5 separate regions of the Homo sapiens genome follow, and regions 2, 3, 4 and 5 are each linked to region 1. Evidence: fine-mapped expression QTL. A gene starts in region 1. Each other region holds a variant in brackets. All regions are shown on one strand. Distances are from middle to middle. Region 1 holds the start of KCNMB4 (potassium calcium-activated channel subfamily M regulatory beta subunit 4). Region 2 has its middle 130 kb from the start of LINC02821. Region 3 overlaps KCNMB4 (potassium calcium-activated channel subfamily M regulatory beta subunit 4). Region 4 overlaps PTPRB (protein tyrosine phosphatase receptor type B). Region 5 overlaps KCNMB4 (potassium calcium-activated channel subfamily M regulatory beta subunit 4).

Region 1 (6,096 bases):
AACGTAAATTTTAATAGAAAAAGTGATTATACATTATTTTCCTATGTATTTTCGCTTTTCAAGTGTTTAGTGGCAGTTATCAAAAAACTTCATAATGTGCCAATTTTTGAAAAAATTTTCCCACCTGCTGTAAATTCCCTTCTATTCCTAGGATACAAAAGCCTGCCTTAAAATTATTTTTAGAATCTTTTATTAAAAAGTATATATACATATGATATTGTATACTGCAACTTTAGCATCAGCCACAGGACTTTTTGAATATTGATCATGAGAACAAATTATAAGTAACATGGCTTTGATGCCCTTGTTTAGACAGGCTTTATTTTTCTTTTAAATTGAACTTTATCAAGACCTGGCCATGATCCTACTGGAAAAACTACTGCAGACGATGTACATCAAATAAGTCAGTCTGGTTCTTAATATTACATTTTTAATCTTAATTGGTGGAACACTATTCAAAGAAAGGACTAGCTGCTTTTTCTGTGCTACTTCCACCTTTCACAGGGAACAGAGATTTTAAGTGACCTCAGATCTTAGCATTTCTGAGCTTTCCTGGAGTTCTTACTACCATTCTGACTTAGTAAGTGGTGACCTGTATTCTGAAACTGAGGGGCTGACATATCCAATCTTCCTTGGGAATGTGATAAAGCAGCTCCGCTTCAAGTAAGTAAAACTAATAAACACTTCCAGTGTTTCATTAAGAATAAAATAGAAATTGATTTAATTTGTGAAGTCTTAATACGTTTGACTTTCAATAAAGATGTGAAGATAAAAGTGTTCAGAGAAAAGCTAAATTAAAAACAGGAAACAGGAGAAAAAAATGTCTAGAGAACAGAAGACACAAGTTTCTTTAAATACTTTAAGAATAATTGCCAAGAAAGAAATTGACTAAATGCAGAACTGAAAGAAAATGAATTTTAAAACTTCAAGAATTTCAGTTAAAATAAGATAGAATTTTCTGATTTTGTTCCCTAGACTTAGACCACCGTACTTCAGTTTTGAGGCAGAGGTTTCATTCACAGAAGACTTTGAGCTCTGGAATCATTGAAAAACGAACCATATTCATTAAATTATTGGTAGTCCCCCAACTGCTGTGCATTAATAGGAATTAATTCTGCCTCATTTCAGTTCCTCAACATACTGAGCTAGAATAATTGTATCTTGTTATTTGTTCATCATTGCTTCAGATCTTAGACATAGCTTTTCCTTTCTTGGAAAAGAAGATTATAACAATAGAAAAAAAAGATTATTTCCTATGTTTTTTATTTTTCCTGCAATAGGAAAAAGATTCAGATTGAAGATTTGTGATTTTCGGTTATGCTATTTCAATTATTAAACTCACTTTTAAGCAATGTAATCACAATTGTCTTTATGCTAACAGGAAAAGAATACAATTCTTACATTTAAATTAAAAAAAGAAAATCTCAAAACCTGAAAGGTATTAGAGAACAAAGCATCTTCCTAATTTGGACGTTTTTCAAACTCTACATCTTCTTAATTTATTGAGAAAAAGACACTTAGGATCTTCCTGTAATTAATTTGCCCATTGCTGGGAAATACTTGTTACCTGTCATAATGTAGTGCTTCAAAATAACGTTATCAGAACTGCAGTCGAAAGGTACTCAATACCAGTTAAGTAACATTTGAAGTCCAGGAAAGAGAAGTCAAGAATTCCATGATTCCATGTTTCCGTATTCATCAGGAACATAATTAAGAGTTTATTCATTTGAGACTTACAAGCAAACAAAAAAAGTTTATGTAGTTTGCAAGGAAGTTAATATTCTGATTTTATTCTTCGAAATGTACATATAAATAGTTCTCAAGTTTGATTTTATGATAAAAGTGTAGTTTGGGAAAAGGTCATTCTAACTTTAAAAAGGTCGCGAAAACAATAGAGGCTGAAGCATTGTTAGCGTAATTGGGGGAGGAGGGAGCAACGGCAAGAATTAAGAGCAGAACACAGGTCTAGAAACAGTACCTGTCCCAAAGTGGGTCTGCCCGGCGCTGTCGCTTTAAGCAGCGCTCCTGGAAACCTCATCTACAAATCCTGGGGCGGGTCAGGGGTGGCAAGACTCCTAAGGAGGGAAACGACAGAAATGATTCTGTTCTTGCGAGCCCCAAAGCAAGAGTACTTTTCTGATGGGTAAAGTGGTATTTCTTTCCAGGCTGCAAAGCTCTCCACCTTTTTCCTTTGGTCTCAGTCAGCCCCAGCCATGGGGGCAAATCAAGTTGGGGTCAACTCGGCTGCCAGAGACCTAAGTTGCCACAAGGGTCACCGACGACCTAAGCAGCAAGTTTCCTTCGTCCAGCCTCCTGCCCCCACGCACATTGCCTCCACAGCAAACTCCACCTGACTCAGCTTGTTTAACTCCAATCCTGCAGCCCTCCCGGCCTCAGCAGGGTCAGGGGGCGCGGGTCTGCGCCAAGACGGTTAGGAGGCCCAAGTCCTGGGACTGGACGGTTACTGCGCTCCCTTGGGCGCAGCCGCTGGCGGCGTGGGCGCGGCTGGGTCACGCCTCCGGCACCACCGCGCGCCAGCCCGCCCGTGGCATGGGAACCTGCGATTCAGTCGTCCCCGGGGACCTCCCAGCGCACACCGCTAGCCTGGGGCTTTCACCTCGATCCGCCCGGCCTGGGCGGCTCGTGTCCTCCCACACCGCCACCCGTGCCCGCTTCCCGGGGTGCGCCCGGAGCCTGGCCGCTCTCCCTGCAGGTGACCAGTACTCGTTTGGAGTTCAAGATTCCCGCCGCTCCACTTGAACTCCACCCTCCCCTCTTATTATTATTATTATTTTAACTTCCCTCCGGTTAAGCTAAATTGATCTTAATCTTTCATCTCGGACGTCCCTCTAAGGGGAGTGAGCGAAGATTCCGATTGCAAGTCGCCGCTGTCGCTTGTGCCCGTCAGCCCCTCGCCCAAAGGAGACGCCCCCGGGCGGGGCGGGGCGGAGCGGGGCGGGGCGGAAGGGCCCGGGTCTGCTGCGGACGGGGCGGGGCGGAGCCTCCTCCTGCACGGGGGAGCCCCCGGGCTCGCCCCAGCTCAGACACTCCTAGCCTTGGGGCAGCTGCCGGGCGAGTCAGCGGAGTAGCGGCCAGCGGGCGATGGAGACAGAGAGACACCCGACGAGAGGAGGCGGGGTGGGGGAGGCGGGGAGAGTGCGGGGGCGGAGGCTGGCAGGGGGCGCTGGAAGCTGGAGCGGTCCGTGCGCTCCCCGCGCCCGAGGGTGCAGGAGGCTCTGAAGCGGCTGCTGCACCGCGGGGCCCAGGCGGCGGCTGGGGGGCTGGGGGGCGCTGCCGCCGCCGCCGCCGGGGGCGTCGCTGGCCTCGGCCCCTTTGTTCTCGCGCGCTCCCCCTCGCCGCCCACTCCCCTGCTGTCGCGCGGCGGCGGCGGTGGCGGCGGCGGCTCCTCCCGCCCGAGGCAGTCGGGCTCGGCGCCGGGGGCGGGAGGGGGCGGGGGGAGCACGCCAGCCGCCGAGAGTGGGGGGCGATGGCGAAGCTCCGGGTGGCTTACGAGTACACGGAAGCCGAGGACAAGAGCATCCGGCTCGGCTTGTTTCTCATCATCTCCGGCGTCGTGTCGCTCTTCATCTTCGGCTTCTGCTGGCTGAGTCCCGCGCTGCAGGATCTGCAAGCCACGGAGGCCAATTGCACGGTGCTGTCGGTGCAGCAGATCGGCGAGGTGTTCGAGTGCACCTTCACCTGTGGCGCCGACTGCAGGGGCACCTCGCAGTACCCCTGCGTCCAGGTCTACGTGAACAACTCTGAGTCCAACTCTAGGGCGCTGCTGCACAGCGACGAGCACCAGCTCCTGACCAACCCCAAGGTAAGAACGCCCCGCGCACCCAGGGGCTCCCCGCGAGGGAGGTTTGGAGGCAGCGTCGGTGTTAGACTCCGCGCGGGGAGGGTTCGGCGTGTGCTCGCATTGCTAGGAGGAGACCAGGTGGCGCAGGCTGTGCTCAAACCAGGAATGACTACATCAGGGAGCCCCAGGGCTCCGGTCTTTTCAGGTGGGTTTACGCGCGGCGACCAGTGGTGCCCAGAGGCTTACTTTAAAACCTGTCTTGCCTGGTCTCAGATTTTGAGGCCTCGACCCAGTCCGGGTCCTGCGCCTACCGGACTGGGTTTGGAGAAGTGCAAGGAGCCAAGAAAGTTAACTTTTCCTCCATTTAAAGCCAGTGGTTAGCGGGGATCCACCTACTCCAGCTCACGGTCAAGGTCCGAGCTTCAGCTGGTCTCATCTAGAACTCAGATGGAATGACCTTCCTTGAAAGGTCGAGGGGACTCTCGAAAGTTGTGAGAGAGTTCCTCACCTTTTCGCTCTACATAGGCATTTTCAACTTGGGGTTCAAAGATAAGCTTTTGTGGCTTGACAAACGACCCGGAATCAAATGTGGAATATTGCGGGTCCATTTTGGGAAGTACAGAGGGCTCCTAGTTTTCATGAAATAGATTCTCAAAAGAGTCTACAGGGAGCCTAGTTACCCTTTGTGTTTAGGGACAGTCAGGAGTCGTCTGGAGAACAGTAAAACTTGCTGAAAATAGAAAACCTTCAGTGAAATGTACCTAATATGACTTCTCTGACAACTTCTATTGGTCTCGAAAGCAAGCAAGAAGAAAAAGAAAAAGAAAAAAAAAAAAGATAAAACCTGGTTAGGACTCCCGGGATGGAGAGCAGAGAGAGGAAGTCTCAGAAAACTGTTCCCAATGGAGAAAAATAACTTATAAAAAGCAGTGTCCTTAGCCTGTGAACTAATTGAGCTTTGTAGTGCACCTGGTTCTGGTTCCGTTTCTACTTCCCTTGATCTTTTCTGCTCTCCTTGTTGCTTAACTATCAAAGGTATGTATCTTTTTAAAAGTTACTGACATTTTTCCTTTTTTTGAGGGATCAAGCAGAAAAACAGTCCAAAAGGGAATGCATCTTGTGTTCACAGGAAAACTTTCTGTTAACTCTAACAAGATATATTTATATTAATCCAAAAGAAAAAAATTCTACATTAATATTATAATAGTATTTAAAACAGCTTACCGTCACTCTGCAATAAAACTTGTGGTCTTACCTCCTGAACAGTAAATTCTTGAATTTGAGACATTTAGAAAATATTTCTTTTTAAAAATATGAATGACTCCTCTCAAAAAAAAAATGCTCCTGTCGACAAATGAATATTGATTTACCTTAAAAAATATCAATAATACATAAGCAGTAAATATAGGACTAAGAATATAGAATTTGGAGTATAATGTTAAAGATCTTGAAGAGGTGATAACGTCTCAAAGACAAATGTTGTAACTTGATCCTCTTAATGCTCAGGAATTTAAAAAGAAATCTCAGGGTTTTAGAAACATTTTTTTTTTTAGAATTAAATCAATAATGTCAAAGATGAGTGCCAACCAGTAGTAATGATTTAGAAATTATATGGCAGTTCATCATTTAGAAGTTGTTATAGTTGGTGAAACGTTGCTAATTATTTTAAGATAGTGGTTCAAGCACTAATAAATTTCATATCTATATATACATATATATGCACACACACATTAATAAATGGCTAATATCTAATCAAGACAAGGACAAATTATAATTTATTACAAAAAGACTGCTTCACAATTTTCAGGCAGTTTGAAGTATCTGGCAGAAAAAGTAAATTGAAATCATTGGGACGTTGATTTTTAAATTACCTAGAAGCAATCCCAATGCTTTATGTAATACTAAAATTTCTCCTCTCTCTTTTCTTTATCTCTCTCTCCCCTGAAAATAATCATTTTTTTTCCAGTGCCAGTTCAGATCTTGGCAACAGTTGTTTTGAAAAAGTACCTGAACAAAATACATTTTATAAAGTAAAGTATTCAGGAACTGACAGAACTGGAGAAGAATATATTTATGTTACAGAAGTCATGGACAACATCCTATTCATTTTAGTCAAGGTTTTCTCAGCCAAACCAATTTATATCTCTTTATCCAGATTATAATTATGTTGTATCATTTATAGACTGTAAGTTTGTTCTTTAGCATCACCTTTCTATTTTTGACCAATAAATTCTCAATTTGGAAATTCTTATAGGCAGTGTGATGGAAAAATTCAATGTAATAAAAATATTATG
Region 2 (6,096 bases), 320 kb before region 1:
AGCGCCACTGCACTCCAGCCTGGGCGACAGAGCGAGACTCAGTCTCAAAAAAAAAAAAAAAAAAAAAAAATTGTTGAGTGATGTCTTTGCATATGTGTAAAAAGGACTGGATTCAATACGTACGTGGAGGTATGGGCCTTAGGTGCATGGATTGTCATCTCTAGTAAGAGGCAGGAAAGCAGTGTATACAGCTGCAGATGCTGCTGTGGGGGACAGGTGTAGTGAAGGTCTGAAGAACTGCTCTTCTGAGTGCTTCAATTTTCTTAAGGAAGAAGAAGGAAGGAAGGAAGGAAGGAAGGAAGGAAGGAAATTATCTGAGAACAAGGAAGGAGAAAAAGTTTTGCTGAGGGTTTGAGGAGAGAGGAGAAGGTGGAAAATATTTGTTTAGGAAAATCGAACGGTAAATGGACCAGAGAAGTACAGCGAGATTGCCAGGCAGCAGTCAGGCCATTTGTTATTTATAGTCACAAATTTAAAGTGGGACTCATCGGTGAGAACTGTGTTTTCTTTCAGCCAGATGCTGTGCAGAGGAGGCGGAGAGTTAGATTTAAACAGGGTTGTTTTTTGCCAAGTTAATACAAAGTGAAAGAAAGGCAAAGGAATCAAGAGTCCATACGCAGAAATGAGGATAGTGTTTGTCACAGATTTTAAACTGGAAAAGAAGAGAACTGAAAGGCAGGTGAGGGAAAAGGGAAAGGTACTATGATCAATAGACTAGAAGTCCAGATAAGGTCAAAGTCTTATTGAAGTTGAACATTACAGGGAAAAGACAATAGATGAGAGAGTGAAATGGAGATAATGAAGGAGTAGCAATTATTGATCCTAAGAAATAAGATTACAATGTGGTGATAGGAATGGGTGGCTGAAGGAGGATAAGGGACAAAATCCTTGAAGGAATGGAATTTAAAGTGACTGAAAGATAAGGCTATTGGAAAAATCATATTTGAATATAAAGATATTACCAAGAATTAATACAGAAGATGGGTTTGAGAGAATGACTCTGAACTATGAAATGAAGATTTTTGATTGATATTTTTGTTCAATGGGCTAACGATACAAATACAATAGGCCAAGACAAATGTGTTGGCAAAGACATAGCCAAACACATTTTGACAAGATACTCTCAATTTCAGCTGGTCCTCATAGGTCTTTAAGTTTACACTGCAGTGAGAAGTAAAGGTTAATTTATCTGACACTAACCCCTGGCAGTCCTCCCAGAGTGAGAGTTGGCTTCCTGCAGGGTGGGAATATTTGGCAAACATCCTGGGAGAACACTGAGGTGGAGGAACAAGGCTGAAGGCCAAGGTCCCATGTATCATACACCTCAAACTGCAAGACCTGTGTCTGAGCGCCTGTTCATAGCAGGGAGGCTCTGTGACTGGGAGGAAGCCCAGACCGGGAATGCTGAGATGGCAGAAGAAGGGAAGTCCAACAAGGCTGGGACCCAGGTCCTCATCATACCAGAGGACTTGCTGGCACTTCCCTAAACATGCAGCTTATTAACCCACAGAGCTTGGACTGAACACTCTGCTAGATCATTTTGCGCTATCCCAGAGAATGATAGGCAAAGGAGGAACTGTCCACCAGCTCCTCTTCCTGCCTCTGTAAGCGTCTATGGATAAATATCATTCCAGGTCTAGTGTGTGTGGTGTCAGGCCACTCATCCTGTGTATGTTCCCTCAGCAGACATGATCAAACTCCCCTGGTTTCTTCTTCCTATTTTACATGTCAAGAACAAAAAGAAAATAAGATTTCATTATTATTATTATTATTATTTTTGTTAACCATATATTTGGTATGATGTATTATAATGACTTAAGCCTTTAACCCTTAATTAATCTGTAAGGGTTTTAGGAATTGTCCTGGGAAGTCCAGTAGAAGAGAGAAACTCAAAGCATTTTTTGCAATACCAGCAATGGGTTGCTAAGGCAGGGATGGCAAGCATAAAGCTCCTCATGTATCCACTGTACTCCCAGCGTCATGGAAAACATCAAAGCACCCTTTTCTGCTGACTCACCCCCCAACCCAGAAGATTTTTTGCACAGCACTCAAGAAAAACACAGTAGTTAGTTGGAATTAGCACCAGATACCCTCATGCCTGCTTTCTGAGATAAAGAATACATTGATACATTGATCATGTAACTGAAAGAGGATGCATCATCGGCCTCCATCACTGTCTGGGGGGCCAGTGCAATGCATCTAGAATTTGTATTTAAAAAGCAACAACAATTCAAAAAATCGAAGATTTATTTCATTTCCCCAATAAATGCAGACTCCAGTAGTATCTAACAGCCTTCTTGCTCCTACCTCATTGCCACCAGTCACATATTAGCAGTCTTGGCTGAAATACTAAAGATACTTAAATCTGAATATAATTCAAATCATAGTTTTGTAATATTTAATTCCACCGTGAAACTGAGCTACTATGAGATTACTGACAAAGAGAAGACACTATAGCGTAGTATTGTGTCATGGATTTTAAAGTCGGCCGGATGTGAATTTGTATCAATTTACCATCTCTTTGATCTTAAATAAGTTTCTTAATATCCCAAACCTCAGTTGCTTCTCTCTAGAATGGAGACAATAATACTAACATTGCTGAAGGTAATTTTAATCTACCATGATGATTTAACATTATATGTCAAGTATTTAGTACAGAGGCTGGGATAGAATTAGTGCCCAGTTAATGGTAGCTATTACTATAAATATATAAGTATCATACACTCAACTCACTGTATATCATGTGCAACTTTCCTATGCCTGGGGTAGACTTCTCCACTTACTATCATTCACCACACACACACAAAAATTCAGGCAGCTGCATCCACGTGGATTTCTGATCACGTGAGTCACTGTTAAAAACCTTGGCTGCCCTGACCAAAACTTTGATCGTTTTGCAAGCTGTTCCAGAAATGGGTCAGAGAGTTTTTTTTAAAATGTTTCTCTGTTAGGGAGAAAATAAAAGGATGGGGCTTTTATGTGTGAGTGTTTTGTTAGCTTCTCTGTTTCTTATCAATTTATGATCCTTTAGAAA[A/G]GAATAGACCAGGTGAATTGTAACCACAATCACACCCCTGTGATACACAGAGGTGTCATTAAACAATAAGGATCTTGTCCCAGCCAATTATCCTAAGATCAAAATAAAGAAGGGGGTTAGCACTATGTTCTCTCCAAAGCCAAAAATCTCTAAAGCCGCAGAGGAGAGAGCACCACTGCTGGAGAGGCGCTCCTTACCCAGAATGAAAACTGGGAGGAATCTTCTAGCTTCCTCCTTTTACCCACCTTCTGATCTCCTACCAGTCCTTTCTATTGGCCAAACATAGCAAAGCCACCTCACTCCTGCAGGTTGAGTCAGGCCCCAATCACACCAGCCTACCAGGAGCAGGGACGGGCAGGACAGGATCTGCGGGCCAAAAGGAAAACATCTGATAAGTAGGCCTTCCTTTCAGTTCCTTGAAAATGCCAAGCTCTTTCCAATGTCAGGATATTCATATATTCCATGTCCTCTTTCTATAATTCTTTTCCCACCACTATTCACCTCTTATCATTCTTCAAGTCCCAGTTTAAATATTACTTCCTCAAAAAGACCTTCCTTGACTACCTGTGTAAAATAGATCTCCTCTGTTATTCTTTCTTTAAAACCCTCTCTTCTTGCTAACCTTTATAATTATATACATATCTTCTAATTATCTGTTTAATGTCTACCTATCCAGGGGCTAGGAATATCTGTTTTGCTTTCTACTGCATTGTCAGAATCTAGCACAGTGCCTAGCCTATAAAGAGTGCTTAGCACTAAGTAAATAGTAACTATAATTATTACTATCTTTTATTTTTAATAATAGTACCATAATTGGATAATCAGTGAGAGATGTCAGCCCATTCTGAAATATATGTTAATTTCTTTCTGATGCTGTTGTTTTCTTCCTAATATTTAGTAAACACAAGTTGAATGTTTCAGTTCCATGAACACTTTTTAGACATTACCTAGAATACCAAATTTCCATATCTTGAGGCTTCAAAGACCATTAGGGAAAAATTGATACATTCCTTGAACTGTTAAAACAAAAACTATGTTGGCAAACTTGGAATAAACGAATTCTTTTCATCAAATAATCTGTAACTGAAAAGAGAAAAATGTGTACAGTAGAGCAATTTATCATCTGCAAAATCTCTTTATGCTTCACACATTCTGGTTTGGATCTTTTGATTTTTGTTCTTTAAATCTACTGAATGATAAATTTTCCTTGTCATTTCATAGGAGACCTTCATTATTTTTCTCCTACCATCAGTTTATTTTTTTCTCAGTAAAATTCAGCTCCCTTTTCTTTCTTAGCATTTTAACCTACCTGCTTCATGTGGGATAAAGAAATGCCCCATCTTTCACAGATAAAATAAATCTCCACATAAACGGTGACTGTTTTGTCTTTAGAGACTTTGTCTCCAAAATTTCCCACATGTGCCACAATCTTCTTAAGTTATCATACAGAGAACAACTCCTGCAATCGTGGGAAGTGAGGAGTTTGGAGGGCAACAGGTTGGCAATGGGGCGACTGAGGTGACTGTCTTGAGCAATCACCACGTATGGAGCTAAAGAGTCTACTTCCAGGTTCATTTCTGCCATTAGTCTAAGATTCATTTATTCATGAAACATTTATCAAGTGGCTACTGTGTGTTAGACGCTATGCTAGGGCTAGAGATGCATTACGGATAAGCTGTGGCTCCTGTTCTCAGGGAGCTCATTGTGTAGTATAGGGAAACAAGAAAGTAACAAATATTTACAATTTGTGATGTTTAATGCTTTAGGGAAAGTAACACAAAGCACTATGGGAAAATATGGAGGATCCCTAACCCAATTTTGGGCAGGTGTGAGGGTGGGGATGGTACAGCAAAGGCTTTCTGGAGAAAATGATGCTTGCGCTGAAAGATAAGTCTGGATTGCCCAGACAGACAATAGAATAATGTTCCAGAAAAGGCAAACAGTGCTTGCAAAAGTTCACAGCAATGTGTTATTGGTGAATTATAAGTAATTTAGGGCCAGGTTCAGGACAGGGAAGGAAGTGAAAAATGAACTGAAAAAATGAGCAGATGTTGAGAGGTTTTGCATCAGGTGAGAATTTGTTCTTTATCATCAGGTCCTTCTGCACTAACCCAGGTTAAAAGGATTGATGACAGACAGTGGAAAGAAGAGGGACTTTTGGAGTCAGACAACTTGAGTTTGAAACTTGGTCTTGCCACTAGTTTGTAATCTCGGTCAAAATTTCTTGGCCTCTCTAAGCCCTAGTTGCTTTAGCAATACAAAAGGTAATAATGTGCTCTAAAGGATTATCATTAGGGTTAAATAATACATGTAGCATCAGCACATTGCATGATGCCATGTTAAATCTCAACTATTATAAAACAAATTGCTGTAATCAAGAATATCCACACAGAGCTTTGAGTCACATACTTAAGTGAACACAAACTAGAATCTTGTTACCAGAGAGACATTTGTCTGCCTGAACCTGTTTGGATCTTTTTGTTTTGTTTATTTGGCACTGTGTTTTTAATGGTGGTGTATATTTCACAATTTGGTGCTATATCACTGCTTAATAAATGAGTTATCTAGAGTGAATTATTATGTCTTCAGACTTAATCATGCTTCATTTCCTTCATGCCATAGAATTTTTGAGCTAAAAGAGGTTACAGAACTAATCTCTGGAAGCTGGAGAAAAAGCACAATGTTGGAATAGAAATATGTGCTAAGAGCAAACAAATTGAGTATCCATCAGGAGGGAAATAGTTAAATAAACTTATATTTCTATGCTACGAAATACTATGCACCAGCTAAAAGGAATGAGATTGCTCGCTGTGTACTGACATAGCTAGAGCTCCAAAACCTATTGTCAAATGAAAAGCAGGCTGCATAAAGATATCTTCAAAATGACATTATTTTCATACAAAAATATACACACTTGTATAAGTAACATTATATTACTTCTATATGTGCTTATATATGCTTTCTAGGTTACATGTATATAAACACATAGAAAAACTTGAAGTATATACACTAAAATTATAAGTGGCTATTTATTGTCACTTGAGAAAGTTTGTTGGGGCAAG
Region 3 (6,096 bases), 44 kb after region 1:
TTCTGGAGTTGGCATCAGATCCCACAAATTAAAGGGTCCAGCCCCACAAGATGACCCCCACTTCAGATGTCAAGCGCATGTCCCAGCTATCTACCTGTACTTCTGGCTGACCTTCTCTAAGTCAGGGGTTCCCACATCCTCCCTCCTTGCATTCAATAATTTGCTAGAATGGCTCACAGAACACTACTTACTATTCCAGTTTATTATAAAGGACACAACTCAGGAACTGCCAGATGGAAGAGATGCATTGAGCAAGGGGCCCTCTCCAGGCACACCACCTTCCCAGCACCTTGATGTATGCACCAACCCAGGAGCTCTGGAGTTGTTAGGGTTTTTATGGCTATTACATAGGCACGATTGATTACAGCATTGGCCCTTGGTGGTTGAGTTGATCTCTAGCCAACTCTCCCTTGCCTGGAGAGGTGGCTAGAGAGAGGTGGTGCTGAATTCTTTTTTTTTTTTTTTTTTTTTTTTTGAGATGGAGTCTCACTCTGTCGCCCAGGCTGGAGTGCAGTGGCTTGATCTCTGCTCACTGCAAGCTCCGCCTCCCGGGTTCACACCATTCTCCTGCCTCAGCCTCCCGAGTAGCTGGGACTACAGGCGCCCGCCACCACACCCGGCTAATTTTTTGTATTTTTAGTAGAGACGGGGTTTCACCGTGTTAGCCAGGATGGTCTCGATCTCCTGACCTCGTGATCCGCCCGCCTCAGCCTCCCAAAGTGCTGGGATTACAGGCGTGAGCCACCGCGCCCAGCCTGAGGTGGTGCTGAATTCTAATCCTCTATTCACATGGTTGGTTCTTCTGACAACCGGTCCCCATCCTCCAAGAGTCACCTCACTAGTATAAACTTGGGCATGGTTGAAAGGGGCTTACTATGAAAAAACGAAGATTCTCCTCTCACCCCGACTACTCAGGAAATTACAAGGGTTTTACAAGTTCTGTGCCAGGAACCGGGGCAGAGACCAAATACAAATTTCTTATTATGTCACCTATAGCAGTTGTGTTAACTTCAGTACAGTAAATTTAAGCTCATTATACCTCCTTCAGAACGGATACACATTCCCTATCCATCATCTCACTGTCCCATTCCCAAACGGTGGGGGTGTAGATAGAAGCGGGGGTGGTCTATCACAGCCCAGCAGCACTCAAGACAGGATTTTTCAGCGACTCTGGGAAGGCAGGCGTTCGGAGTTTGGCTCTTTTACCATGACATATGTGAGAGGAAACAGGAGTGCTGTTTGGAGGTGTGAAAAATGGCAGCTCCCTGGTGCCATCTACTCTTAGTACACTTTTTACTACTGCTAAATATGAAATTAAAATAGACTTACTGTAGGGACTCCCAGATGCTCTTGAAAAGATGAACTTTATATTTAAAGAAACCTTTCGATTTCGCTCAAATGCAGGAAATTAGGGAGAATAGTCCAGTTTTGACTTTCAAGAAAAGGGTGTTATTTTAAAAATCTAAGACAAAGATTAGAGGAGTCTTAGCTTTCCACTGGTTAAGTCCTGTTGAGGCAAGCTGTATTCCAGTGTTGAGTCTGCAGCGGCCGAAGCAGCCCCGAAGCAGCTGTGCCTGCCGTGGGCAGTCAGTCTCGGTGCGGCCATCCCTCTCTACACCCAGGAAGGATTCTGCAGAGGCGTCACTGGGGTGAATTCATGCCAAGGGTTGAGTCCATTTGTGGCCCTCCCATATAACCTTTCCACTCTTTGCCTCCCTTAACCTCGAGGCTCAGTCTCCTTCCAAAATGTGTAGATTTTGTTTTTACACTTTTTTATTCAGGTAAGTTCACAATTCTCCCTATATCATGTTTTCATTTTTTTTCTCAGTCTTTCCCTGGCTTATTCCTTCTCAGCAAAACCTAACTTATACCCCCTTAACGAGTATACTTTGAAACCCCCTTTTCATTGCCAGAAAACTTCTCTGTATTCTCAATCTTTTCATACAATTTCCTTTCTTCATCTTTGCCTTAACTGGCTTCTCCTTGAAGAGGGCTTGTCCCTTTGAAAATAACTATTCATTCTTCAATTCCCTTTGGATCTAAAGGCCAAAAGGAGTGATCAGTCTTTTTATCTTTTCCTCTTGTTGGAGAGCATAGAGTTTTTCTATACAGGTTTACTTTTTAGTACTTTGTTTTATACCTCTGGATAGTAGGTCACAGAGTACACGGAGCAGGCTTACACAAACACACACGTCAAATGAACAAATCCAGCCACACCACCTGTGCAGTCTCTTGAATTCACTTCCTCCACCACTGCCTGGATTCAGGCTCTCACCTGGCTTGTTGAAGGCATCCTCAACTAGTCTGTCAGCCTTGGTCTTTCTCTTGTCTGTCATCCACACCACGCTAGGTTTTGTTTTGCTTTGTTTAAGCCTCCTTTTGATCTTGTCACAGTCCTTGATTAAATTTTTCTGCCTTCTTCTTATCTATAGGATAAAGGCCATGCTCTTCCAATTCCAACTTAAACTTCTGCCATTGAATTATGTGCCAGTCAAGGAAAACCAAAGACAAAACAACAAGAAAACAACAACAAAATAGCAGACACGGTCCTTGCCTTCATGGAGCCTATAGTCTGTAGTCACAACAGTAGTATAATTACAAAGTAGGGTAGTGCTATGAAGGGGAAGCTGAGGATGCTGCTATGAGATATTACGGCATGATGGGGAATTTCAAAGACCTTTCTGTGTAAATTAAAATTAGGTCAAGACCAGAGGATGTTCAAGAATTAGCTAGGTAAAAAGCTAGGGGGAGAATATTTCAGAATGAGATACTACCATGTGCCAATGTTCTGCAGCAAAAAAGAGCTTGGTGGTTTTAGGTACTGGAAGGCCAGTGTGTCAGGAGAACTGTGAATGAGTGGGAGAGTGGAGCAAGAACTA[T/G]ACAGGGCTTAGATTTCTCTTAAAATGTAGTGAGCAGCCAGTCGTTGGTTTTAAGCAGAGTGGTAATATGGTCTGCTTTACATATTTTAACTTTTATTCCAGCTGCATCAGTCACCTCGAGTCATTCTGTTTCCCATACACCTTGATGCCTTTGCTCCTGTCTCTTTCTCCTCACCTGGGGACACCTTCACCTTTTTTACTTCTGGGAATTAGCACAGCACAGTAGTCCTAGAATGAACTCTAGAACCAAACGCTTTCTAGTGGCGTGGTCTTAGATATGTTACTTAAATCTATCTGTGCCTCAGTTTCCTTTGCAGAAGTGGGATATAATATCAAGGAGATGGCATGTGCCTAACCCACAATAATTCCTACAAAAGTGTTTGCTATTATTGTTTTTATTACTATTATTAAGATTCACCTCAAATGTTACTGTGTAACCTTCTCCCACCTTTTCAGGTATAATTCATTACTTCCTCTTCTGCAGTCCCACACTGCCATGGTTGCTTTTATCACACTGTTAAGAGAGTTGAATATGTACTTTTTTGTTGTTATAGATTATGAATTCCTTAAGGGCAGCAGTCATGTGACATCAAGCATCGGGATTTACATTTCTCCTCTATCACTGATTAATTGTACGACCTTGGATAAATTGTGCAGCTTCTCCATCTTGGTTTCCTCGCCTGTAAAATGAGGATAGCATTACCCATCTTAAGAGCTTCTGTTTTGGTTTTGTAAGAAACACATTTGCACCATAGCTAATACTTAGTAAACACATATGCTTTTCTTCCCTGCCTCTGTAGATTTCTAACAACTAAGTTAGAAACAAAGTTGGGCCTGGTTATTTACTGATTGGAGGCTGAGGTGTTGAATAAATAAATAATGAGGGTTTTATGAATGAGTAAAACAACAACACAAAAAAAAGGAAGAAAGAAGAAATTCTGTTGTTAAATATGTTGTACTCCTGATGCTAACAGATATATCCTAATTTCTAAGTTCACTCAAAGTGTGTTTATCCTGTAGCATATGTTTTTAAATCCAGTTTACCCTTAGCATTTTAAAGAAAGATAAACATAATGGCCTGAGCTCAAATTGAGTAGTGGTTTCTTCAGAACACAGTTTTAAAGCCATTAAAATAGAAGATGAAAAGCAACTGATTAGAAAAAGACTGCTCACTTACTTAGGGTTTAGTTTTCTTAACTATAAAATTTGATAGACTGATGGATGAAATGATCTCTAAAATTCCTTCAAACTCTCAAATTCTATGGTTTTATGATTCCCTGGTTCTGAAGACTTGTACAAAATTACAACAACTTAAGATGCTAGATAAAATCCTAATGGTGAAAGGGAGAGGCAATTAGTAAAGAAATAAATGGTTAACAGTCTAGAGCCATTTAATGGAGAGGGAGACAGCCCTGCTACCTCAACGGTAATTGAGTTTCATAATGATGACACTGAGTCATCAAAAAAGGTTAAATTTGGTTCAACCTACTCTCCTTAAAAGGCAAAGAAATGTGTAATGCATTTTTAGGAAGATTTTTACCAATAATATTTTAATATTTTATTAGTTTTTATTCAACTTAAAATTTAAGCTTTAATTATTTGGAAAATTCACTTTTGTAAATGTCTATTTCCTCTCCGTGAAGCAAGCCCATTTCAGGGGCTACAGAGATCTTCCTGCCGCCACAGAATAGCTTATCACTCTGGTATCATGGTTGTTACTCTTTTTGTAATTTAGTGTCCTAAATTTTACACATAAAAATGCTACCATCTCAAGCTGGGAACAGTGGCATATACCTGTAGTCCCCACTACTTGGGAGGCTGAGATGGGAGGATCATTTGAGTCCAGGAGTTTAAGGCTAGCCTGGGCAGCATAGGGAGACCCTGTCTAAAAAAAGAAAAAAGAAAGTGGTAGATGAACTGAAGAGGTTGAAATAGATAATACTGTGCGTGTATGTCATGCTAAGGGGTTTAAATTTGTCTTAAGGGCAGTGGAGGAGTGACAGTCACATTTAAGTTTTAGAAAGATGAGTCTAGTGGCAGCATGGAGGGTAGATTGATAGAAGCCAAAGCTGGAGGATCCATGAACAATTTGGAGACTGTTGTACCAGTCTAGACAAGGGATGGTAGGAGCTTGGACAAAGGTAGAATTAGTGGAGGAAGAAAAGGAGGAATGGACATAGGACTTGAAGGAAGTGGAATCTGCAGATTTAGAGAAGTACATGATGCTTGATAGGGGTTGAGGTTAAGAACTGGATGGAATTGGATCCAGTTCTGGCTTTCTGTCCTGGGTAACTGTTTTGGAGGCACCATTAACTGGAATGTTCTGGGAAAGCCTTTGCTTTTCTGATGTGAGTGCTGCTGCCTCCTGCTTTCTGATGCCACAACAGCAAAAGGCATCATGCAGCTTTGAGGTGATAAACAGGAGAGTGGACATCTACACATTAGTAAGAGTGGAGCAAAAAGAGCCAGCTTCCTGGCACTCTTGTGGAATAGCTGCCCCTGCCCTGGCCATGCTACCTCTGGATTTCTTGTTATGTGTGACAGACAACACTTACATGCTTAGAAATAGGCATCTGAATATGTTTATAACCAATAGAGTGAAAAATGATTGGTCAGTTGTAGTTTATTTTCCGGACGTCTTTGCATTCTAAAAACAGATTGAGCTCTAAAAACAGATGCAAGCTCAAAAAAAGATTTATTTTAATATATTTATATGTTGAATTTAATTGTACCATTGGCTTCTAAGTTTTTCTTTTGGCTTTTTTATAGAGCAAATTACTAAAGAAAAAACTTTGTTTTTACTAGCAGACCTCTTAGTATACAAATGGGGAAAATGTGCATATAAAGATGGGACCTAAGATTTGGAACAAATTCCAGAGGAAAATTTTGTTGACATTGGAATGAATTACTAAATACTGTGTTTGATATTTGGTAAAAATTACTTATTTTTGTCTTCTACTCTGAGAAGTATTTCTTACAGTCTTATCATTAGAGAATAGACTGGTTCTAAGGCTATTTTTTACAGGAACATATTGGCTTTTTCTTTAGACATTAAACCCAATGATATATCCTGTATCTTAAAAAACAAAACAGTAAATCTGGAATCTTACCGAAACCAAGTATTTTCCATATACATTTGTGTCTGTCTCCATATTAAGAGAGATTACATCAGAGTTGAAGGCTTTCTTTGGTCCCAAAATCTGTACTTTTTAAAAAA
Region 4 (6,096 bases), 180 kb after region 1:
TATTGCTTTACCTAATGGGGTAAGGAAATTTAAGTAGAAATTGCTAACCGAAGACTTTGCTAAGCAAACCCAGGTCTGCTTGATGTCAGAGCCCTTGCTGTTAACCCCATTTACTGCTTAGCCTCCAAAGAGAAGCAATAGCATCACATGGGGAAATGTCAACAGCATAAGAGGACTTTCATAATCAGAATTTAAACTGGCTATTATCCCTCTGGAGGGAAGTGCAGGAATATACAAGCTATTTCTTATTAAAGGCATTCAGAGCTTGAGATTGTCCATATCGAGCTATATTATATTTCTTTAGCCTCATTTCATTTTTGGAGAAAAATGCAGAAATGGCTAGAGGAAGACAGTATTACAAATTTTGACACAAAACTTACAGGGCAATATATTGTTGTATCGATTTTTCCCTCTATTCTCCGGCAAGAGTGCAATGTCACATGACTGGTTTCGGCCCACGTCTTTTAACTCCTGTTAGGTCAAATATGAGTTTGTAAGTGGAGAATATGAAATAGAATAAAGCAAATCATACAGTCCTGGAGATAACATAATAACATGAAAATATATACACTAGCTATTGTTTATGAATGCCTAGTACTCAACATGCATTAGCCCTGATCCCCACAACAGCCCCACAAGGGAGGTGGTGGTCTCACTATTTTACAGGTGAGGCTCAGTCAGGATAACTGATGTGCCCCAGGTCACCCAAGTGGCAAACCTGAGAATCAGTTCCAAAAGCTACGTGCTTTTTGCGAAACCACGGCATCTTCCAGCCAAGCAAATGGCCAGGCTGAATATCTGACAGCTTTAGGTCTGCATTTGAGATTTGTTAATTCTTCCTTACTATCTGATCCAGGTAGCCCTTGGTTTGCTGTGTTATTCTGGAGCTCAAGCTGGCCTCTAAGATTAGATGGTATATTCTATTCAGGGCATAGTTTAGGCATAAAAGAGTGCTCAGCTGAGATTCTAAGCAGCCTCCTAACTTCTGAGCTCAATCAGCCTATGATGACACAGTAAACATTAGGAAGGAAATTCTGCTAAGAACTAGGGATGCTGAAGCTTCATTCTGCCTGAGTTGTACCTCGTATTCCTTGGATAGAAGGTAGTTGGAGTCAGCCTGTAGCTTCATGAAATGCCCTTCAAACTGATTTATTTTTATTGGACTGTAATTAAAAATGAAACAAACAGAAAAGAGTTACTGCAGAAAAGGGAAAGTGCCATAACTATTCTGACTCATATTTCAAAGGCAGATAATATAGTAATTAATGTGTTCTCTCTCTTACCAAGAAGTTTTCCGGTTACTGTGAAGAGAAGCCAAAAGAGGAAGACTTTGTTAGCAAATTTCACATAATACCATCTTTCAACAAATTATACGAAGGCAAATGTGGTGCTTACCCTTTCTGGCCCAGGTTTAAGTGGACAGATAATGGTCGATCCCTACGAATGCTCAGACGGGCAGAGGGTCTTTCTCGACCATGGCTGAAACATAAGGGAGATAACTTTTATTCTGATTATGATACTTGGCTTGAACAAATTTTTCCATTTATGGTAAGGCTGTGGATGTTTGTGCAAATATGGATTTTTCAGTATTCATACAGATTTGCACTCAGCCAACATCTCTGAGGGAGGGAAAGGAAAGAGAATAAAGTAGATCATTCCCACCCAGAAACGGATCTCTGCAAAAACTGAAGATTTGTCTCCTGGTTTTTGGCTACAGGTTATAATCACTTCCCACATTCTCAATAAAACTTTGCTTTAAAAAAATCCAGTAAATTTCAGATGCCAGACACGACTTCAATAAAGAGGAACATGTGCCAAATTAAGAAAAAAAATTCACTAAGAGAAGAAGGCACGACACTTGGGGCCACATGCTATTTGGTTCTTTTTGGTCCCTTCTTAAATTAGGATGGCAGATATGAACTACAAAATGGTGATGTCAACCACACTTTTCAGGATATTTCAGAAAAGCACTTGGGCATGCAATTTGCAAACATCTCTGTCTTCATGAGGATATGAACCACACACACACACAAAATATTTTTTTCCTGTGCAAAAGGAGTCACTTCATCTTTAAATAAAGCTATAGATGGCCCCTCAGTCCTTTGGTAAGGGCTGAATTCATCAATGGGATATAAAAGAGCTGAGAAAAGTGAGTCATGGCTTTAGAGTTTGACTTGTTTTTATTGAGAAAACAGTGACAATTTAACCTGGAAAAATTAAATTATTTTCCCTTCTTAGTTTTCAGCCTAAAGGGAATTTTCAGTTGCATTTTTAAAGTTGTGGGTCCAATCACCAAAAGGATCTTTGTACTTACCTCACTTTCTGTCTGCAGATCAATAAGGCAACAACAGCCACTAGCATGCCAATTAAAAACAGACCAGCACTCACACCTTCAATAGCTCCAAACAAGGGCTCTACAATAATCCAGATAGAAACAACAAACGCAGGTGGGAAAATTAGTGCTAGGGAACCAGTAAGAAAGCTATTGAAGCCATATCTCCCAAGTAATGTTATTACAAATAGAATTCAAGTGATGCCCACGATGAGGCATTTACTTTCCAAAGGCTCTGAGTATGCACCTAAGAAGATGATGAAAGGCTGGCTCCCACCCTGTAGCAGTGAGGCCAGGTGTCACTGCATACTTTTGAAGTTAATGTTGCATAGCTTATAGAGGAATTTTGGACTTTGCACTTGTATATAAAGCTTGGGGCACCTGAGATAAAGGCCATAAGTTTGCCACCAAGATAAAAATGCCATTTCATTTATATAAAACATGTTACACAGCATCTGGGGCTTTGGAAAATCCAGTGGATTGCTTGGAGCTATTCTAAGAAGTCTTATTTTTATTATCTGGTATGGTAACGCTACTGGGAGTTTATGAAGAGGTAAGAGTGGCCTCATTTTTAAAATAGCTTTATTGAAATATCATTCATATAGCATGCAACTCACCCATCTAAGTTGTACAATTCAGTGGTCTTTAGTATAGTCAAAGTTTTGCAAATGTCACCACAATCAATTTTAAAACATTTTCATCACCCTCAAAAGAAACCGCGTACCTATTAGCAGTCAGTCCCACTCCTCCCTCCCCGCGATCCCTGGCAACCACTAATCTACTTTCTGTGTCTGTGGATTTGCCTATTCTGGATGTTTCATAGAAATGAAATCATAAATCTGTGATCTTTTGGGACTGGCTCCTTTCATTTAGCATAATGTTTTCAAGGTTCATCCATGTTATAGCATATACCAAGATTTCATTCCTTTTTATGGTTGAATAATCGTCCATTGTATGGATATATCACATTTTGTTTATCC[A/G]TTGATGGACATTTAAATTGCTTCTACTTTTTGGCGATTATGAATAATGCTGCTATGAACATTCATGTACAAGTTTCTATGTGGACATATGTTTTCATTTCTCCTGGGTATATACTGAGGAGTGAAATTGCTGGGTCGTATGGTAACTCTAGGTTTAATATTTCTATAAACTGTTTTTCAAAGCAGTGACACCATTTTACATTCTCATAAGCAGTGTATGGAAGGTTCTGATTTCTTCATATCCTCACTAACTCTTGTTACTGTCTTTTTGATTATAGCCATGCTACTGGGTGTGAAGTGGTATCTTCTTGTGATTTTGATTTGCATTTCCCTAATGATTCATGATGTTGAGCATCTTTTCATGTGCTTATTAGTCAACTGTATATCTTCTTTGGAGACATGTCTATTCAGAGCCTTTGCCCATTTAAATATTGTGTAATTTGGCTGGGCACGGTGGCTCATACCTGTAATCCCAGCATTTTGGGAGGCTGAGGCAGGCAGATCACGAAGCCAGGAGTTCGAGACCAGCCTGGCCAACATGGTGAAACCTTGTCTCTACTAAAAATACAAAAATTAGCCGGGTGTGGTGGCGCATGCCTGTAGTCCCAGCTACTGGGGAGGCTGAGGCAGGAGAATTGCTTGAATTTGGGAGGTGGAGGTTGCATTGAGCCAAGGTGGCATCACCGCACTACAGCCTGGGTGACAGAGCAAGACTCCGTCTTGAAAAAAAAAAAATATATATATATATATGGCCTGGCGTGGTGGCTTACGCCTGTAATCCCAGCACTTTGGGAGGCCGAGACAGGTGGATCACAAGGTCAGGAGATCGAGAACATCCTGGCCAACACGTGAAACCCTGTCTCTACTAAAAATATAAAAAAATTAGCCAGGCGTGGTGGCGGGCGCCTGTAGTCCCTGCTACTTAGGAGGCTGAGGCAGGAGAATGGCGTGAACCTGGGAGGCGGAGCTTGCAGCGAGCCGAGATCGCACCACTGCACTCCAGCCTGGGCGACAGAGCGAGACTTTCTCAAAAAAAAGGAAAAAAAAAAAGGAAAAAAATATATATATTACACTATATATATAGTGTAATTTGTGTTTTTATTATTAAATTGTGAGGTAAGAGTTCTTTATATGCTATTCAGCCCTTATCAGATATGTGATTTGGAAAATAAATATTTTCTTCCTATTCTGTAGGTTGTCTTTTTACTTTGCTGATAGTGTCCTTTGAAGCACAAGTTTTTAATTTTGATTAAATCCAGAGTATCCATTTTTTCTTTTGTAGCTTATGCTTTTGGTGTCCTATCTAAAAAGCTATTTTCTAATCCAAGGTTACAAAGATTTACACCTATGTTTTCTTGTAAAAGTGTTACTGTGTTATCCCTTAAATTTAGGTCTATGAAGTGGCCCATTTTTGAAGTTGCATTTTAAGATCTTAGATTTGTTTGTTCCATGTTGCTTTTCAAGACTCATCAAATCAACACAATCATCTTTCCTTGAATGTAGTTAATATCCTTTTTTGAATATACGTTTACTGTCTTCCTGTACTGGACTACATGCAATTTTTGTCATGTAACAGTATTTCAAAAAGGAAAGAATTGTGTTTACAAAGTCCCTACATTAAATTATAAGTAAAGACATCTAAATCCTCTTAACTGTGTTCTCATCCCCCTTTAGCTTGAAATTGGGAGATTATCCCTATATTTGGCATAAATAGATTGGAATGTTTGTGAGGCTGAGTCATCGTTTGTCATGCAGCACGAGAGACAGTTTTAGCTGTAAAGAACTTCCCAGACCTAGAGATCAAGCATTGCAGAACACGGATTACAGGAAAAGGCTACGCAGACGATGGTGTTGGGAGGGAAGGTGATGAAATGATGCTATTCTCAGCCTGGTGGAAGTATTCAGAGACAGGGCAGTGCAGAGGTTGTACGCTTGGGCAGAAAGTGCCAGAATTTCAGCTGCACCATCTTGGGCAAATTACTTAATCTCTTGGTGCCTCATGTCCTCATCTTTAAGATGGGGATGATAATAGCATCTAGCTCAAAAGACTGTCATGAGAATTGGACAAGTTATCCCATGTAAAATGCTTAAAACTATGTCTCCATAGAGAAGGTGAACAGTAAATACTAGCCACTATTATTACTCAGGCTTTCCCTCTAACACACTAGAGAAGTCTCTTTCAGAAATTGTTATGCACAGTCTTTTATATTAATGGTTTTTAGTACTACAAAGTCAACACATAATAAGCAAAAGGAAGAAAAATCACCTGTATTTCCATTACTTTGAGATACACATCATTAATACTTTGGTGTTTTTTTCTTTTAGTCTTTTTTTCCTGAGCATTTCTGTGTATATGCATATATACATTCTCACTTTTAACTGAAAGTGTTTTGTAGTAACTTATATTTTGGCCTGTGAAAACTCTTGATTTTAATGGTTTTCACTCACTATTTAGAAAATAATTCATTTTTAATAGAAAAAAATACTGTACTTCCACCTTCTTTTTAGATTAACCCCCTTTCAATCCATTCTTCTAGAGAGGTTGTACAATCCCTTTGATCCACATCAATTTTTGGTCACATAAAGATTAAGTTCCAAATGAAAATAAATGTTCCCCCCACCATCAGCCAATATCTCCCCATTAGAGGCTCTTGTAGGTGACATGGCAGTTGGTAGAACATGATGTAAAGGTTAGCCTTACCTGATTCAGTAGTGATGGGTAAAGAAAAAAATGTGTCTGAATAGAGTGGCTTTGTGAATTCCTTCAGGTCCTCATCAAAGAGC
Region 5 (6,096 bases), 24 kb after region 1:
GGTAAGGCTGGTGTCAAACTCCTGACCTCAAGTCAGCCACCATGCCTGGAGTGTTGTTTTTTTTTAATTGTTTTAATTTTTGTGGATACATAGTAGGTATATATATTTAAGAGGTACATGAGATGAGTTTTGATGCAGGCATGCAAAGTGACATAAGCACATCATGGAGAATGGGGAATCTATCCCCTCAAGCATTTATCCTTTGAGTTACAAACAATCCAGTTATACTCTTTAAGTTATTTTAAAATGTACAATTAAGTTGTTATTGACTAGAGTCACCCTACTGTGCTATCAAATAATAGGTCTTATTCATTCTTTTTATTTTTATTTTTTGTACTCATTAACCATCCCCACCTCCCCCACAGCCCTCCACTACCCTTCCTAGCTTCTGGTAACCATCCTTCTACTCTCTATCCATGAGTTCAATTGTTTTGATTTTTAGATCTCTCAAATAAGTGAGAACATGTAACCATTGTCTTTCTATGCCTTGCTTATTTCACTTAACTTAATGATCTCCAGTTCCGTCCATGATGTTGCAAATGATGGGATCTCATTCTTTTTTATAGCTCAATAGTACTCTATTGTATATATGTACCCCATTTTCTTTATCCATTCATCTGTTGATGGACACTTAGGTCACTTCCAAATCTTACCTATTGAAAACAGTGCTGCAACAAATACAGGAGTGCAGACGTTTCTTTGATATACTGATTTCTTTTCTTTTGGGTATATACCCAGCAGTGGGATTGCTGAATCGGATGGTAGCTAAATTTTTAGTTTTTTGAGTAACTACATTGTTCTCCAGTTTAGTTACTCAAAACTGTTCTCCAAACTGTTCTCCCTAGTGGTTGTACTAATTTACACTCCCACCAAGAGTGTACAAGGATTCCCTTTTCTCTACATCCTTGCCAGCATTTGTTATTGTCTGTCTTTTGAATAAAAGCCATTTTAACTGGGGTGAGATGATATCTCATTGTAGTTTTGATTTGCATTTCTCTGATGATCAGTGATATTGAGTACCTTTTCATATGCCTGTTTGCCATTTGTATGTCTTGATTATTAATTTTTAATTAGAATAGCAGTGTGACTTCAGATGTGCCTCAGTTCCCTCACCTGTAAAATGAGAATTATAATAGAGCCTGTCTCCTTGGGTTATGAGGAGTAATGAGTTAATATATGGAAAGCTCCTAGGATAGTTCCTTGCATATGGTAAGCCTTCAGTGAATGTTTGCTCTTGTTATTATGAACATAGTTTTGAAAATCAAATTGCACTGTACTTTTATTTGAGGGTAAGGAGTAGTACTCCACTGCTCCAAACCCTTGTGCCACCCAGAGATAACTGGTTTTAACTATTTTTAGGGCTTTTTTTTTTTTCTGGTTTTTACCTCTGTGTTTCTAAACAATAGGTTTTCTGATGTATGCAGTTGAGATACTGTTGACCACCTATGATGGATTATATGGACTTAGCTTTCTTGCACCACACCATCCTACCCCATTTTCCTCTCTTTATTCTTTAAATAAATATGATTCTATCATAATTTTTGGATAAATTAATATTGAGTGCTCAACTTACTTTAACTATGTAAAGTACTGTTCACTTCTATAACTTATTTTCCTTGAGGTAAGAATCATCTCCCTTTTTTATTTTCTTACTTTCCTGTACCTTTCCTGTGTACCTTTCTCTTATTTTTCCAAAATTCTCCTGCAGAATTGTAAAACCCATTTGTATACTGTTTGTCATATGACCATTCTCAATAGGTAGTCATTTAGTTCCACATTTCTCTCATTCTTTTTAAAAATTTCTTAGCCAGGCATGGTGGCTCACGCCTGGGATCCCAGCACTTTGGGAGGCTGAGGCAGGCAGATCCCTTGAGCCCAGGAGTTTGGGACCAGCCTGGGCAACATATTGAGAATCTGTCTCTACAAAAAATACAAAAATTAGCTGGGCATGGTAGCATGTGCCTGTAGTCCCAGCTACTTGGGGGGCTAAGGCAGAAGGATCACTTGAGCCTGGGAGGTTGAGGCTGCAGTGAGCCAAGATCACACCACTGCACTTTAGCCTGGGTGACAGAGTGAGACCCTGTGTCAAAAAAATAAGATCAAATAAAAATTTCGTGGGACACCCTTGCTGGGCCCCATCTGCCTACTTCTCATACTGAACTGGATGCACCTTAGGCCTGCTGCATCTTTCTTGTGTTGAGTACCTTGTTTCCTTGATCCCATGCCTTCCTCTTTCTTAATTTATTTCTTTGTTTTGTTGGAGTACATCCTCAAATAGCTTTCCGAGAATGGGTGAATGGGAAATAGAATTTGTAGGCCCATGTATAGATCAGAGTTCTATTTCTGAGGATTTAACACACTCTAATCATGTTACTTGAAACAAGTTTACTATTTGTTAACCAGTGTCCATAAAATATTGTAGGACTGTACCTCCATCATTTCTTTCAAGAGAAATAAACAATCAGATGTTCTGCCCAGAGTTATGCTCAATGAGCTCAAATTTGCTCATCCATCAAAACTGATCATAGGCTTTAAGAACCTCCTGGCACACTGCAGAGTATTCCTTGGGGTCTGTATATCCCAGTATGAGGAAAACCAACCCAGATTAACAACTGCATTTTAGCACAAGATGGGGCAGGTGGTGGTATAAAAAGAGAAGGTGCCTTGGGAGTGTGAGCCATTTGCTTCTGAAATTTATTTGCCAACAAGTCCTGCTTCAGCCCTGTAAATCCCAACTTTATGTTTTAGTGAGTCAAAATAGCCCAGCATACAGTGGGTAAAATGGTAAATTGATGTTGCATGTTCAGGCATTCAGACCCTACTGGGACCCAGTAACAAACCACTTGTTTCTCAAAAGGAGAATAGTCACTTGCCAAAGAAAGCATGGGTTTGCTTTATACCATCAGGGCTCTCTCTGGGCTCCATATATCCGCTGATCTGTCATAGACTCTTGTTTGTTATTGAAGCCACTGAGCCATAGAGATGAATTGAGACAGCTTCCTGCTCTGTAGCCTTGAGCAGGTTTTCCTGCTCTGATTGCTACTGAAAGCTGGCAGGTTCTGGGTTACTCAGTATATTGATCAGAGAAGCAATCCCAAATGTCAGTATATGTTTCCTCCAAAATGTGAAGACGCTATACTTTCAGGATCTGTAGGAACAATCGTGAAGAGAGTTCATGGACTCCCTGGGCCTATTGTGACACTAACTTGGACCAAAACTTCATTTTCCCCTGACCCCCATGAGCTCTCATTCTAAGCACAGGTGTACTTAGAGTCCCCAGGGATTAGCATTAGCGTAGAGCCAGTGTTCAATACTATTCTGAATATCTGCCCTTTCTGCTCTATACTACTCTGCTACATGTCGGCATGTTCTGCTGGGAAAGGCTAGATTTTCAGTAGGTAGGACTTGAGGTTCTACCACAAGGGCTTTAAGTATAAACCAGCCCCCTCACCCTTCCTCTAAGGAGCTTTGGGCCTGGGATTGGCTGAGGAGTCCTACCTTACATCACAGTGACTCATAGACTTCATTTCATCAAACCTCAAGTGTTTTTATACTTTCAGGTATGTAAATAAAGAAGAACCTTAGAAGGTTATCTATTTATTTTAATCTTAGATGTCCTGTGATCTCAGCCACTGTCAAAGATCCCTGTGGCTCAAGTCATTTTTCATATGTTCACACATTCTTTTATTTTTTATTTATTATTATTTTTTTTTAGAGAAAGGGTCTTGCTCTGTCACCCAGGCTGGAGTGCAGTGGCACA[A/G]TCATAGCTCACTGTAACCTCAAACTCCAGGGCTCAAGCTATCCTCACCTCTCAATCTCCTGACTAACTATGACTAAAGACATATACCAGTACACCCAGCTAATTAAAAAAATATGTTCTGTAGACAGAGGGTCTTGCTATGTTGCCCTGGCTAGTCTCGAACTCCTGGGTTCAAGCAGTCCCCCTGCCTTGGCCTCCGAAGGCTCTAGGATTACAGGTGTGAGCCACTGCGCCTGGCCTATGTTCACAAATTCTGTGGGTCAGAAATTTATAAAGGACACAGAGAAGAATATAGTCTGAGGTCCTCTCCACATAGGCCTTTCATGTGATCTCTCATTATGGGCCAGTTTGGGTTTCCTTGTAGAATACTGTCTGGAGACCAAGGATGAGCATTCTCGAGAGAGATGCAAGCAGGTGCTTTATCACCTTTTCTGATCTAACCTTGAAGTCACACTGAATCATTGCTGTAATCAATGGCTCATTTATGTGCTAAGGAAGAGAAGCTAGACCTCCACCTCTCAATTGAGGAGTGCCAACATCACATTGTAAGAGTATGTGAAATGGGATGTATATTAATGCAGCTCTCTTTAGAAAACATATTCTGCTACAAATAGGAAGCACCAGTTTTTTTTATCATCACCATACTGGTTCTAGAGGACTTACAATAGACAGGGCTTGTTGATCCCCTTCATGCAGAAATGATGGTTGTAATATTTCATTGTATATATATCCATACATACACACATTGAATTTGTGTACCTTACAGTACACAATATAGCTACAAATAATGCCATCAATGAAGCCATCTGAATGTGTGCATGAACATTTAAGAAAGTTTTATTTCATTTCAGTGTCATAAGAGTATTGACCATCTCCATTAGAGAAATGCAAATCAAAACCACAATGAGATACCATCTCACACCAGTTAGAATGGCAGTCATTAAAAAGTCAGGAAATAACAGATGCTGGAGAGGATGTGGAGAAATAGGAATGCTTTTACACTGTTGGTGGGAGTGTACATTAGTTCAACCATTGTGGAAGACAATGTGGTGATTCCTCAAGGATCTAGAACCAGAAATACCATTTGACCCAGCAAATGGTATACTGGGTATACTGGGTGTATACCCAAAGGATTATAAATCATTCTATAAAGACACATGCACACGTTTGTTTATTGCAGCACTGTTCACAATAGCAAAAACTTGGAACCAACCTAAATGCCCATCAATGATAGACTGGATAAAGAAAATGTGGCACGTATACACCATGGAATACTAATGCAGCCATAAAAAAAGATGAGTTCATGTCCTTTGCAGGGACATGGATGAAGCTGGAAACCATCATTCTCAGCAAACTAACACAGGAACAGAAAACCAAACACTGCATGTTCTCACTCATAAGTGGAAGTTGAAAAATGAGAACATAGGGACATAGGGAGGGCAACATCACACACTGGGGCCTGTTGGGGAGTGGGAAACTCGGGGAGAAATAGCATTAGGAGAAATACCTACTATAGATGAGGGGTTGATGGGTGCAGCAAACCACCATGGCACATGTATGTCTATGTAACAAACCTGCATGTTCTGCACATGTATCCCATAAAATATAATAAAAAAATAATAAAATTTAAAGAAAGAGTATTGGCCATCTCCTCAGGATTTTAAATTCTGATCAGGAGTTATTAAACAAATGTTTATAGGCCCTGTCATGTTTGTTATAATTATTAATAACTATTGAACTTCTTCCAGATTAAAATTTCTTGTTTTGGTGTGATTGCTTCTATTTGGATTCAACTTCTATTTTTGGCAAAGACTGTGTGTTTTTATTTTATTTTATTTATTTTATTTTATTTTTGAGAAAGAGTCTCACTCTGTCGCCCAGACTGGAGTGCAGTGGCGCGATCTCGGCTCACTACAACCTCTGCCTCCCGGGTTCAAGCGATTCTCCTGCCTCAGCCTCCTAAGTAGCTGGGATTACAGGCTCCTGCCACCATGCCTAGCTAATTTTTGTTGTTTTAGTAGAGAAGGAGTTTCACCATCTTGGCCAGCCTGATCTTGAACTCCTGACCTTGTGACCCACCCGCCTTGGCCCCCCAAAGTGCTGGGATTACAGGTGTGAGCCACCACGCCCCGCCGTGTTTTTATTTTCTAACTCTAAAACTAAATGAACTATTTTGAAGATGGAATGCCATGCCGAACTTTTCAGTCTTAATAATATAACCAACCTTAGCAGTCTGCCTGAATGCAGAAGTTAAGTGAATATTATTAAATTCCAAAAATCCAGATATCATATCAACATATGATAGTAAATTCTAACTAAAAAAACTATGCATTGGA

What was found. PIP is the estimated chance that this variant, and not a neighbour inherited with it, causes the effect.
Region 2: its variant is the best candidate, but not a certain one, in a credible set for the expression of KCNMB4 in esophagus mucosa (GTEx, PIP 0.70).
Region 3: its variant is the best candidate, but not a certain one, in a credible set for the expression of KCNMB4 in whole blood (INTERVAL, PIP 0.55).
Region 4: its variant is the best candidate, but not a certain one, in a credible set for the expression of KCNMB4 in esophagus muscle (GTEx, PIP 0.69).
Region 5: its variant is the best candidate, but not a certain one, in a credible set for the expression of KCNMB4 in fibroblasts (GTEx, PIP 0.76).

The regions. Positions count from the first base shown.
Region 1 is chr12:70,363,248-70,369,343 of GRCh38, forward strand. KCNMB4 (potassium calcium-activated channel subfamily M regulatory beta subunit 4) reads left to right here and starts at 3,043. Exons shown (of 3, transcript NM_014505.6): 1 at 3,043-3,823. The coding sequence starts at 3,488. RefSeq lists a silencer at 2,859-3,098.
Region 2 is chr12:70,042,365-70,048,460 of GRCh38, forward strand. No RefSeq gene overlaps it. Among named protein-coding and RNA genes, the nearest start is that of LINC02821, 130 kb to the right of the region's middle. The variant A/G (reference allele first, on the strand shown) is at 3,035.
Region 3 is chr12:70,407,011-70,413,106 of GRCh38, forward strand. All of the region lies in intron 2 of KCNMB4 (potassium calcium-activated channel subfamily M regulatory beta subunit 4), which reads left to right. Among named protein-coding and RNA genes, the nearest start is that of KCNMB4, 44 kb to the left of the region's middle. The variant T/G (reference allele first, on the strand shown) is at 2,880.
Region 4 is chr12:70,538,544-70,544,639 of GRCh38, forward strand. PTPRB (protein tyrosine phosphatase receptor type B) reads right to left here. Exons shown (of 34, transcript NM_001109754.4): 22 at 6,014-6,096; 23 at 2,315-2,414; 24 at 1,396-1,479; 25 at 1,284-1,301; 26 at 1,082-1,163; 27 at 381-471. The region is part of intron 6 of PTPRB-AS1 (PTPRB antisense RNA 1); the gene reads left to right. Among named protein-coding and RNA genes, the nearest start is that of PTPRB-AS1, 74 kb to the left of the region's middle. The variant A/G (reference allele first, on the strand shown) is at 3,313.
Region 5 is chr12:70,387,607-70,393,702 of GRCh38, forward strand. The region is part of intron 1 of KCNMB4 (potassium calcium-activated channel subfamily M regulatory beta subunit 4); the gene reads left to right. Among named protein-coding and RNA genes, the nearest start is that of KCNMB4, 24 kb to the left of the region's middle. The variant A/G (reference allele first, on the strand shown) is at 3,761.